Linked DNA regions of Homo sapiens: all the other regions are reported to be linked to region 3. Evidence: microRNA targets listed by miRTarBase, many of them from high-throughput screens and not tested one by one. Region 3 holds a microRNA gene; each other region holds the end of a gene's coding sequence.

What was found. The annotated mature microRNA hsa-miR-3160-3p reads AGAGCUGAGACUAGAAAGCCCA and lies in region 3 at 1,259-1,280, shown strand. An mRNA with a match to its seed (bases 2 to 7 or 8) in the 3' UTR can be bound and repressed. Matches are read on the target gene's strand: a 7mer-m8 pairs with bases 2 to 8, a 7mer-A1 pairs with bases 2 to 7 and ends in A, and an 8mer does both.
Region 1: the mRNA of USP9X is a reported target of hsa-miR-3160-3p. Seed matches in the 3' UTR shown: 7mer-m8 at 654-660.
Region 2: miRTarBase lists CLEC12B as a target of hsa-miR-3160-3p. The part of its 3' UTR that is shown has no 7-base or 8-base seed match.
Region 4: the mRNA of RPS19 is a reported target of hsa-miR-3160-3p. Seed matches in the 3' UTR shown: 8mer at 2,541-2,548.

Annotation. Positions count from the first base shown.
Region 1 is chrX:41,232,261-41,235,260 of GRCh38, forward strand. It overlaps USP9X (ubiquitin specific peptidase 9 X-linked), which reads left to right. Exons shown (of 45, transcript NM_001039591.3): 45 at 127-3,000. The coding sequence ends at 264. Among named protein-coding and RNA genes, the nearest start is that of LINC02601, 42 kb to the right of the region's middle.
Region 2 is chr12:10,017,847-10,021,040 of GRCh38, reverse strand. It overlaps CLEC12B (C-type lectin domain family 12 member B), which reads right to left. Exons shown (of 6, transcript NM_001129998.3): 6 at 2,245-2,710. The coding sequence ends at 2,560. The region is part of intron 2 of LOC102724020 (a long non-coding RNA gene); the gene reads left to right. Among named protein-coding and RNA genes, the nearest start is that of CLEC12B, 8.8 kb to the right of the region's middle.
Region 3 is chr11:46,449,901-46,453,094 of GRCh38, reverse strand. It overlaps MIR3160-1 (microRNA 3160-1), which reads left to right and starts at 1,206; the gene lies at 1,206-1,290. The region is part of intron 11 of AMBRA1 (autophagy and beclin 1 regulator 1); the gene reads left to right. MIR3160-2 (microRNA 3160-2) reads right to left here and starts at 1,288; the gene lies at 1,208-1,288.
Region 4 is chr19:41,870,838-41,874,031 of GRCh38, reverse strand. RPS19 (ribosomal protein S19) reads right to left here. Exons shown (of 6, transcript NM_001022.4): 6 at 1,107-2,681. The coding sequence ends at 2,655. Among named protein-coding and RNA genes, the nearest start is that of MIR6797, 2.8 kb to the right of the region's middle. RefSeq lists enhancers at 424-673, 1,987-2,246, 2,487-2,556.

The DNA of each region.
Region 1 (3,000 bases), not on the chromosome of region 3:
CCAAGGGTATTTACAGAGTAAGTCCCAAGAATAAGAGTATACATTTCCAGAGACTTCAGACCATGATTTTGAAGTTGTTTTACTATGTGAAAAGTTTTAACATACAGATCTTTTCTCCTTTCCCAGAATAACCATGTGCATGGACAGCCATATACAGGCCCAGCAGCACATCACATGAACAACCCTCAGAGAACTGGCCAACGAGCACAAGAAAATTATGAAGGCAGTGAAGAAGTATCCCCACCTCAAACCAAGGATCAATGAAATGCACATAATTAACTGGTTCCATCAAGACTGTGCACCCAGGCCTTACAGTCCAACCTTTTTCTGTGTCTGGCTAATATTTAAAACTAGAAAAACTATTCCTAATCAACATGGAGTGGAGAGTTTATTCACTGTCTTATCTGCAGAAATTTGCTGTCAATATATAACCCGCCTGCAGTGGAAAGTGTATAGTGTTTTGTAATAAATGGCCTGATGCTAATGTGTAAATGGCAAAGGTGTATATAGTATATTAATGTTGACTGTTAATTCTTAAGCAAGAAACTTTTTTCTTGATGAGACTCACAGATCTACACAAACTACAAAAGTTAATTTTCTTGTTACACCCACTGCACTCTGCAACCAGTGTTGCCTGCCTCATGGCAGTTGGATCAGCTCCTTTACAAAAAAGAAAAAAAAAAAACCAACAGCAACAAAACAGAGCCCATCCATGTCAGCCACACCAATAGTTTCATGTTAATTCTTTGCCACTGGAGTCAATTTTGCTATGAGCAATGTAAGGCTGGTAACCTTTAAATTATTTGGTTGATGTGGAAAATTGGTGATGTAACACTGTTTCTAGATTTTTTTCATTGCCTTTTTATTCTGATATTAGGTTAATCACTTTGAAGCTATAGTTATGCTGTAACATTTAGCATGGCTTCACACCAAGTTAGTGTAGCCAATGAGGAAAAAGTTACCATAATGACAGCAGTTGTCCGAGAAGTGACAGCTGTATTACTCAGAGCTTTTACTTCTTACACCTAGAATATTAAAATATAAAACAAGGGGAGAAATGTGACAGTCTATTTTCAGTTGCACATATGTTCCTTATATATAATGTTTGACAGTTCAATCTCTGGGTGGAATAAAGAACACTTACGTATCAGTAATGGGAATTTTTAAAGATTTAAAACAAATATGCAAAAATTTGCTATGCCAAGATGCTGGAGCATAATATAAGACTGTATTTGGTGTGCTTGTTTTGTTTCTTTGGTAGAGTTTATTAGGTGAATCTTCTAAAACTTTCCTTCTGTTGGATCCCAGTGACGTGGAAGTCATCAGAACCCCACGGTACTTGGAGTACCTCTCTGCACCAAGATAGCTGGCTGATTTTCTGCTCAGTCACAATTTTACTTGAAAGCAAGAATTGTCCTAGCTCCTTTTCCATTATTCCAAAACGTTTAACGTTCAAAGCAGGGTCTCATTAAAAAAGAAACTACTGGTTGATATAATTGAGATATTACAATTTCAGAATAAACATTTGATTAAAAATAAGGAAATCCTCAGTTCATACTGTATTTAAAAGAGAATTGGTAACTTGAATGTGTGTAATTTTTTGGAACCTGTCTAAAAACCAAATACCCCTGCAAACAGATACAGCCCACCCTATTCTATTTAAATATTTTGCTGTTTTATTTTATAGAAATTATTTTGCTGAATTCACAAATAGAATTTGATTTAAGAAGAACTTTTTGTCCTGTGGTGTGTTTTTGGTTTTTTTTTTGGTTACTTTTTTTGTCCTTTTTTTTTTTTTTTAAAAGAGGACTGCATATTAAAATTCATTCTGTGCATAGCATGCCTAGGCATGACACTGATTCAGGATTTCAGTCACATCAAGTTTTTGTGCACAGAAAGATTTGACCTTTGGCCCTCTACTGAAGATTTTGAGAAATCAGGATGTTGACACTGTAAAAGTTTCCTAACATAATCTTGTACTTTTTGTATGTTTTTTATATACATGTATATTTAATGAGCACAAGCTTGGTTGTATTTTTTACAATTCAGTTAATAGGGAAATGTTTTGTCAAAAGGCTACACTTGGAACTGAACAAAGCAGAAACAAAATTGAGCATTGCATTATTTTGTGATTAAAAGGGGCAGGTATTTAAGATAAAGCTTTGGGTATCTTATTTGTAGTACTGTATAGTCAACCTGTGCTTCTAGGTGTTCCTGTAGGACATTTTGACACCGATACTTTGAGTGAAAGTCACACACGGTGTTTGCAATTCCAACTGATTTTTGTTTTGTTTTTATTTTTTTGTTGTTTTCTTCTTTGAGATGGAGTCTTGCTCTGTCACCCAGGCTGGAGTGCAGTGGCACAATCTTGGCTCACTGCAACGTCGCCTCCTGGGTTCAAGCGATTCTTCCGCCTCAGCCTCCCGAGTAGCTGGGATTAGAGGTGCCCACCACCACGCCCAGCTAATTTTTGTATTTTTGTAGAGACAGGGTTTCACCACGTTGGCCAGGCTGGTCTTGAACTCCTGACCTCAGGTGATCTGGCCGCCTCGGCCTCCCAAAGTGCTGGGATTGCAGGTGTGAGCCACCGCGCCTGGCCCCAGTTGATAGTTTTTTTAATTTAAAAGTTCCTCAATTCCAAGCTCTTTAAACGAGTGAAATAGGTTAACTTTATTTGGATGAGTTAGGTGTACCATCTCACCATCTGAGAGGAGATTTATATATTTCCTGCTGCTCCTTAACAAAATATGTAATGTACTTAAAAACTTTAACGACTTCCTAGTTGAGAGAAAACTTGACATATAAAAGGCTGTGAATTTTTCTGCTTGGAGGAAGAGCCCAACCTTGGTTGCTTTGAAGTTACAAGCCCCCTTGTGCCAGGTGAGGGGCTTGTGAGTCATTTTTGTCTCCATTTGAGGAAGAGTGGTATTCGTTGTGACTAGGAGCAAGGGAAAGTGGAGTTATTTTTGTTTGTGCAAATTATTTTCTATATTTAACTCA
Region 2 (3,194 bases), not on the chromosome of region 3:
GTGGGGATGCTACACACTTTTAAACAACCGGATCTTGCGAGAACTCGCTATCATGAGAACAGCACCAAGAAGATGGTGCTAAGTCATTCATGAGAAATCTGCTCCCATAACCCAATCACCTCCCACCAGGCCCCACAACCAGCATTGGGGATTACATCTTGACATGTGATTTGGTAAGGACACAGATCCAAACCATATCAATGGTCTTTCCCCTAAAAATATACCATTTGTATATACCTGTATATATAAATAAAATATCTCAGGGATTTTGACTGGAGAGGGTGTAGGGGCAGTAGGAGAGGAAGAAAGAAAGAAAAAGAAAGAGATGAAAATTTCTGGAATCAAGTCCTGTCTCATAAGCTAAGTTATCAGAATCAAAGGATGAAGTATTCTGACACAAAGGGCTAGTGAATCTTGAGAACTCTGGATTTATGCATCTACTGTAGAGGTCGTCAGGGATAATATGATGATAGCAGGGCAGCAGGGAGGGAGCTCTTAGTAATAGGAGCTGATCAAGATCCAGAGCACTGTAAGGTCAGAAACAGAAATTTTCTTTTAATGAGTATAAAAGAGTTTACATGAAATGAGAATTAAAATATACAAGATACCAGAAAAAAAAACCTGTAACTTCTTAATAGGAACAAAATAACCAACTAAGGTATTTTAATTATTAAAAGTAGATTTTTTTAATTAGAAATAGAGGAATGAAAGAACTTATTTTTCTCATGGGAATAAAACGAAACCCAAATGTGTGAGAGTCAGAGGCACAGATTTTGACCTTTAAGAAATAATTTTATCTTTGTGAGAATGCCAGGGGCAAACTGCTAAAGAGAAATGGAAGAATCAAGTTTCTTCTTTAATCCATGTGTATATAACTTATGTTTGAATCCCGTATAAGAACTAAGAAACACTGTTTACTTGAACTATGATAATTGTCTGTATTTAAAAAGTTGTGCTTAAATATATTGTTTGTAATTTTTACTAAATTTTCACACTTGACATTTTTCCTTTGTTCTAGAGTTTCTGTTGGTGCCTATATAAAACATTGATTAGTTGATAATTTTAAATATTTAGAGAATAAGAAGCTACTAGATGGTATGTATGAAGTGGTAGTTTCAAAGGACTGTCAAAGTATTGAAATGCATCTAACTTTGAATTTAGATTATATCAATTTTCCAGTAAATTCTAGATTTCTGATCTAGCAAAATCAGTATCAAAGGCTAATTTATCATTATTTTCTTCCTATATATAGCTATGGAACTATGTGAAGATAAATGGAAAACTACATCCTTTACCAGTACTCTGAAATCAGCAATTTTGTTCCAGGAAAAATCTTGAACCCTAGATTTACAATATTTAGCATCTAGTGTGCAGGAACACTGACAAACTGTGATTCAGGAAAGGTCTAAATAATTAAAGATAATGGTTCTTCTATTTTGATGTCTTCAAACAGTTTATTAGGACTTTTCTGAGGGAAACAAAATATCAATTGTAAGAGAATATATTTTTATAATAATACCCAGATTACAAAATCAATAACATCAATATTACTAATTTAAATAAATGACAAACACATAAATATTGGCCAGGGGCAGTGGCTCACACCTGTAATCCCAGGATTTTGGGAGGCTGAGGCTGGCAGATAGCTTGAGCCTAGGTGTTTGAGACCAGCCTGGGCAACATGGTGAAACCTCGTCTCTACAAAAAAATACAAAAATTAGCTGAGCATGGTGTTGCATGCCTGTGGTCCCAGGTATTCGGGAGGCTGAGGTGGGAGGGATCGATTGAGCCCAGGAGATTGAGGCTGCAGTGAGCCAATCACATCACAATACTACAGCCTAGGCAACAGAGTGAGACAGTGTCTCAAAAAAAAGTAAATATTAAATTATTATGCCTAGATTATAAATTATCTAAATTTTAAAGATTAATAAGAACGCTTATTTTCATAGGGTTGTTGGAGAAGAAAAGCTATTTTGCAAGTGCAGGGCGACACTTAGCTGGTTCACAGTGGTACAAACATTTGCTAAAATAAAATATTTCCAAATCAGTTGATACAGTGCTGCAGCCCCAGCTACCAGGACCCTTAGCCTGGGATCCCCCAGACCTCCACATGACCCAGCAACTATCACAACAGGCATCTCTTGGACCTTGTTCTAGTGCTGTGGCCTGTGTTTTTAAATATTTAAATATCACCCTAGTTTTTAAATATTTAAATATCACCCTAGTGCACACGTGACAGTATAATAATAATGAAAGAAAGGAGTCTTTATTTGAGAAAGCAAAGAAATTCAGTGAAATGATTCTGAGACAATCATAGGGCCATAGTATGGCTATTCCCCTTTGTCCCCAGGTATAATTTTAAGACCGAATAATAACATCAAATCAGAAGACGTCAGACAAGGAACTGGAGAATGTTCTGTTAAACAAGTTCATTTGTCTGATAATGTAAATACACAGTCATTTTAAAAGCTGGTTTGGCTCTGGTACCGTAGTTTCCTCTTTCCTCATATGAGCTTACTCACAAGTCTCTTACTTCTTGGAGAATTTGGAAGAAGCATACTAATCCAAATCCTCAGTCTTCACTGGGGCAGCTGTCTTCTCGCAAATCCAAAAAATTTCAGCACTACAGCGAGAAATATAAATATTTCCTTTTTGAAAATAAGCACATCCTTTGGATCCATTGATCTGGTCAAGTTCTTTAGTACTAAATCTGAAAATTAATTTAAAATTAATTATAAATTCTGTATTTGAAACGTGATCACTATTTAGTGCCCTCAGTTGCTCTTACAGCCAATGTCATGTATCTGAATATGGAGAGACTTCTGCCTCCACAAAGCTTCAAAATCTGAAGCTGCCTAAAGCTGGCACAAAATCTGCCCAGAGCTGGCACATCTGGGTTCTTTATTTTAAGTTAATCATAATCCCAGGTAGAATTCTTTAAGAGAAATACTTAAATCCTGGACTGAGAATTTGTATTTCCTTCATAAATATGTAATTCCATTAATGAAATCTAATCAGTTCAGCTTATATTAGAAGTACTTGAAGTTCTTTGGGACCTTATGAAGAAAAACATAAAAATAAAATCACATTCTGTTGTAAAAAGTTATCACATTTTATTATGCACAAATATAATTTTTCACATAGTTATACATATGTGGTGGGTAAAAAGAGAACAAGACAGACGTTAAAAGAGG
Region 3 (3,194 bases):
AAGGGAGTGACTGTTAATGGGTACGGTATTTAGGGGAGATGAAAATGCCTGAAATTAGACAGTAATGATGGTGGTTGTAAAATTTATTTGCTGATGGTTACATAACTGTGCGGATATGCTAATAACCTTGAATTGTATACTTTAAAATAGGTGAATTGTAAGTTATATCTCAGTAAAGCTATAATTTTAAACAGACAGACACACATATATATTTGGGCATTTTTCTCAATGTCAGAATCATAAATGAGAACTCAGAGAAACTTGGGACACTTCTAAGCATGGAAGAAGTCTTCTTATTTGTCATCAGGGACTTTTTCCAGGTACCAGGCTATAGGATACATTGACTGTGATTTCAGATTAGATTAAATGATGATTAGAGTGAGTGTGACTGAGTACTTAGTTATACCCCTTTCTTAGGACAGATTTTAAGACTGCATTTGAATGAAGCTTTCTGGAAAGAAGATTAAGTGTTCTTCCTAGGATGCCATGCAGATATACTCAGAAAGGGAAGATGGTTCCCTTGCTCTGAGAATTATTTTTTGTAAACAGAAGCCAGTGTATTTATTTACAGAGAGCTCAGATAATCCATAAGAGAAAAGTTAAAGTAACCAAAGCTAGGTAGGGTAGCATGTGCCTGTTGTCCTAGTTACTGGGAAGTCTGAGGCAGGAGGATCACTTAAGGGCCAGGAGTTCAAGGCAAGCCGGGCAACATAGTGAGGCCCCATCTAAAAAACAAACAACAACAACAACAACAACAAAAAACCTTAAAATAACAAAGGTTTTTAAAATGTACATAAGACACTAGTAGACCATCTAAAAGATACACAGTGAGCTGGTAAACAAATGAAAAGATGTTCACCAATACTCTTAATTATTAAGGAAATGAAATGGATCCAAAAAATAGGATTACCATTTTTTACTTCACAAATTGATAGACATTTATTTGAATAGTGTTTTCTTAATAACAGCATTATTGAGATATGATTCACCTACCATACAGGCCACCTATTTAAAGTATACATTTCAATGGCTTTTAGTATATAGAGTTGTGCAGTCATCACCTCTATCTAGATATTTCATATCATCTTTATCACCTCCTAAAAAACCCCATACACATCAGCAGTCACTTCCCCTTTCCCTCTCTCACATCCCTCCAGCCCAAAGCAACTGTCAATCTGTTTGAAAAGTTGATAAGTTTTTCAGTTGGACCTGCCCTGGGCTTTCTAGTCTCAGCTCTCCTCCAGCTCAGCTGGTCAGGAGAGCTGAGACTAGAAAGCCCAGGGCAGGTTCATATAACAGCCAAGCAGAAAGATAGTAATTGTGTCTCCAGGATGATGAGTGTTTACATCCCCAACCCCATTCTTATTTCATCTTCCCAGCAGCACACAGTCAGAGATGGCCATTCTGAATTAGAAAGTCTCAAGTTAAACAGATTTTTCAGGACTGAAATGTAATTTAATCATTTCCTTCTTTGCAACTTGCCCTTTTTTACCTTCCCCGAATTAGCTTTTCTGATAGATTTGCTAATGATTCCCATTGTTCAGTATCTTCACTGAACTGTTGAATCATACTTTTCATTTCCCTTCTCCTAGAACAAATCTTAGAGAGAAGCTGTGAAGCTGTTTTGAAAAAAGATTCCTAATTCTTTCCAAGCAACAGAAGAGAAGAGTTTCTGAGAGAAGCAAAGGTAGAGAGATGCACAGAGGCTATTAGGCTTGGCAGAGCTCACCTATCATGTGACTGTGATGATTATTATGATTTTATCCCTAGACACATTCTGGGAGCTCTGGCCTACAAGTTGAAGACCTGACTCTGGAATGAGACTTGGCAGCTTAGTTTTTGCCATTGTTGTTGGCTGATAGTTAGCCAGGATCACTGGATTTAAGCTTCTTTTCCTCCTTGTTTTGTCTGTCATCAGAATAATCTTTATTTCTTCTTTTGCTCTAAGCCTCAATGAAAGGAATTTCTGTGGTTATATGATAGATATGAACTACCATGACTAGTATTGTCCTTATGAACAGCTGCTGTTCCCACTGTCTCCTAGAATGTGAATGAAAGTCGTGGCCCCTCCCTCTTTTTTAGGTTTATTAAAAGTTGAGTGGAAAATACAGACAGTTCCCATATACTCCCTCCCCTTACACCCACAGGCTTCCCCACTGTCCACACCAGTGTGGTACATTTGCTGCAGCTGATGAACCAACGTAGACACATCATTATCACTCAAAGTATGCGTTTACATTAGGGTTCATGCTTGGTGTTGTAAATTTCACTGGTTTTGGCAAATGTATGTGCCATGTATCCAACATTGTAGTAACATAGAAAATAACTTTACTGCTTAAAAAATCTCCTTGTGGCTGTACATGGTGGCTCATGCCTATAATCCCAACACTTTGGGAGGCCAAGGCAGGTGGATCTCTTGAGTTCAGGAGTTGGAGACAAGGCTGGGCAACATGGTGAAACCCCATCTCTACAAAAAATACAAAAAAAATCAGCTGGTCATGGTGGCACACACCTGTAGCCCCAGCTACTCGGGAGGCTGAGGTGGGAGGATCATCTGAGCCCAGAAAATTGAGGCTTCCGTGAGCCGTGATTGCACCACTGCACTCCAGCCTGGGCAATGGAGTGAGACCCTCTCTCAAGAAAAGAAAAAAAAAAAAAATCTTGTGCTCACCTGTTCGTCTCTGCCTCCCTGCAAACCAACCCCTACCAACTACCCATCATTTTTCTGTCTCTATAACTTTTCCTTTTCCAGAATCTCATACAGTTGGAATCCTATAGTATGTAGCCTTTGACTTCTTTCATTTAGTAACATGCACTTAAGGTTCCTCCATGTCTTTTTGTGGATTGATAGCTCATTTCTTTTAGCATGAATAATATTCCATTGTATGGATGTGCCACAGTTTATCCATTCATCTCTTAAATGAAGAACATCTTGGTTGCTTCCAAGTTTTGACAATTATGAATAAATAAATAAAGCTGCTATAAATATCCATGTGTAGGTGTTTGTGTGGACATTAGTTGTTTTTTTTTTTTTTTTTGAGACAGTCTCGCTCTGTTGCCCAGGCTGGAGTGCAGTGGCGTGATCTCGACTCACTGCAAGCTCCACCTACTGTGTTCAAGCGATTCTCCTGCTTCAGCCTCCTGAATAGCTGGGATTACAGATATGCGCCACCACGCCCCGCTAATTTTTGTAT
Region 4 (3,194 bases), not on the chromosome of region 3:
AGTGTTGGGATTACAGGTGTGAGCCACCACTCCAGGCCAAGGTCTCAAACTCTTGACCTCAAGTGATCTGCCCACCTCTGCCTCCTAGAGTGCAGAATTTTAAAAAAGTGCAATTGCCAGCTGGGCGCGGTGGCTCACGCCTGTAATCCCAACACTTTGGGAGGCTGAGGCGGGCGGATCAGAAGGTCAGGAGATCAAAACCATCCTGGCTAACACAGTGAAACCCCGTCTCTACTAAAAATACAAAAATTAGCCGGGCATGGCGGCGTGTGCCTGTAGTCCCAGCTGCTGGGGAGGCTGAGGCAGAATGGCGTGAACCCAGGAGATGGGAAAAGGGCAATTCCCATCCACGCAGAAGAGCCTGGGCCTCAAGAGTCCAGGATTCTTTTACAACTCAGCTCTGCCAACTGACTGGTCATCTGAAACTCAGTTTTTTCTCCTATAACATGGGTACAAACCCCCCACTTGATAAGACTGCAAGAATATTCTGCAGTGCATTTGGCACAGTATCTAGGACAGTTCTGTAGCCCTGGGAACCAGGACCCCAGGTGTTCTGCTGGGGTCACTAGCCCCTCTGCACTTCAATTCCCCGTTACAACCCCCTCCCAGGAATAAGCCTGGCTCCAGACCTGGAAGCCCTAGGAATTCACCTTCAAGAGCCTTCGGTGGCTGAGCTTCTTTCTAGGCCCTCTACTGCTCCCCAGTGGCTGGAGCGGCGCGGCTGCGGGATTGCAGGCCTGCTCGGGACACCTAGACCTTGCTTCCTACCTGGGAAGCGCAATGCCTGCTGCTGTGCAAACCGGACGCTTGGCATTGAGTTCTCATGTCAGCTCTGGGAAATGTTTTCATTAATGGCCAAAAGAGGAAACTAGAGCCCAGAATGGGGAGTGACTGGCCTGCAGCTAGAGTGCAACCCTTTGGGCCTCTTTTCTGAGGCACAGAGCCCTTGGAGTGGCTAGGTCCAGGCTGCAGCTGGGTTGCTTGGGTTCATATGATGGCTCCAGCTGTGGGATATCTGGCAAGTTACCCAGCCTATGGCTTACTTTACCTACCTCCAAAGCACTTTTCGGCACTTACTTCACAGAGTTGCTGAGTGTAAACAACGGTGCTTTTAACATTTTTATTGATTCTTTTTTTGAAATGGAGTCTCGCTCTGTTGCCCAGGCTGGATTGCAATTGCTCGATCTCAACCCACTGCAACCTCCGCCTCCGGGGTTCGAGCGATTCTTCTGCCTCAGCCTCCTGAGTAGCTGGGATTACAGGTGCGCGCCACCATGCCCAACTAATTTTGGTATTTTTAGAGACAGGGTTTCTCCATGTTGGTCAGGCTGTTCTCAAGCTCCCAACCTCAGGTGATCAGCCCGTCTCGGCCTCCCAAAGTGTTGAGATTACAGGTGTGAGCCACTGTGCCTGGCCGATACTTCTTAAACTCTTACGCCTTACGTTTGGGGACTGCCAACTGAACTGTCCAGCAGCAGAGCTACTCAGAGCCAAGGCTCTCCACGGCATCTTGTCCAGTCTCTCAGGAGTTAGCAGGCTTACACACGAGGAGACGAAGGCTCAGAGGATAAGGTGCACAGGGTTACGTGGGATTAGGGGCAGAGTTGTGATTTAAACTCTAGTTTGAACTTCAAAACCCAGGCTCGCCCCTTTCCAGGAAATGGGTCAGATCCCAGGAATAATTTGGACAGGGGAATCCTGGGAGATATTGGCCAAACCAGTTTAGTCTTCCCAACTGGGAGGGACATCTGGTCACAGCGGGCCCTAAGTTTCTTTCCTGGCTTGCCCCTCCAGGGGTCGGACAGCTGCCCACTGGGTGCTATTTGGATCTCCCAGCCTGACCAGGTGCCCAATCATGGGCGGAGGCCACATCCCACTTGCCGTGCACGACTGCAAAGGTTGTGCAGCCCGTGTGTGGCCGCCCTGGTAATTCAACTTCTGCACAGGGATCTGCTTCCACCGACTTCCTGCCACTGCCACTCAGCGGGCCCAAGACCGCTCAGATGCAGAGTGAAGGCTCAAGGACCATTCAGCCTGTGCAGGCCCCAGGCCCAGGAAAGTTAGTGTGTAGGCAGCACAGGTCAGTTTGCGGTGGAGGCTCCCTGGTGGTCTGTCCTTTTCTACCTTCCAGGGAAGAGCATGAACCCTGGGCCCTCTTGCTTTACTCCAGCGGAAGCCACCTCTGCAGCCCAGGCCCAGCTGAGGTCACAGCTCACAGCCATCCTTTCGTTTCTCACTTTCTGACAATTGCAAAGACAGGATGTGGGGGAGTGAGCCACAAGGGCCCCTGGGTCCTTCCTCCAAACCCAGATGGGAACTGTTTGACCTGGGAAGGCCCGACTGGCTGCCGGGTAAACAGCCACCCAATCACCCTGGGCCCCCTCACCCAAGGGAAGGGAGGAAGCGCCTCTTCCTCATGCCCCTGAAGAACAATCAAGAGACCCAAACCAGACCAGGCACAGTGGCTCACACTTGTAATCCCAGCACTTTGGGAGGCTGAGGCAGGAGAATCATTTGAACCCAGAAGGCGGAGATTGCAGTGAGCTGAGATGGCGCCACTGCACTCCAGCCTGGGCGACAGAGCAAGAGACTCAAAAAAGAGACCCAGACCAGGATTACGAATGAGGCAATTTATTAACCCAGCATGGTTTGTTCTAATGCTTCTTGTTGGCAGCTGCCACCTGTGGGAAAAGATGGAAGAATAAAAGTTAGTCAAGGGGGTCTCTGCTGGGGCACTTTGTAACAGCTACCTAACTACCCACCACAGGTGGGCACCCCGATTTGTGGTTTCAAATGCATCTATCTCATCTAATTCTCACTGTGGGTATTCCCCCATTTCACAGACGTGGAAACTGAGTCTCAAGGGAGTGGCCAGGCACAGTGGCTCACACCTTTAATCCCAGCACTCTGGAAGGCCGAGGCAGGTGGATCACCTGAGGTCAAGAGTTCGAGACCAGCCTGACCAATATGGTGAAACCCTGTCTCTACTAAAAATATAAAAACTAGCCAGGTGTGGTGGTGTGTGCCTGTAGTCCCAGCTACTCGGGAAGCTGAGATAGGAGAATTGCTTGAACCCAGGTGGCAGAGGTTGCAGTGAGCTGACATTGCACCACTGCACTCCAGCCTGGGCGACAGAGCAAGACTCTGTCTCAAAAAAAAAAAAAAAAAAAAAAAAAAAAAAAGGAAGGGAGTGG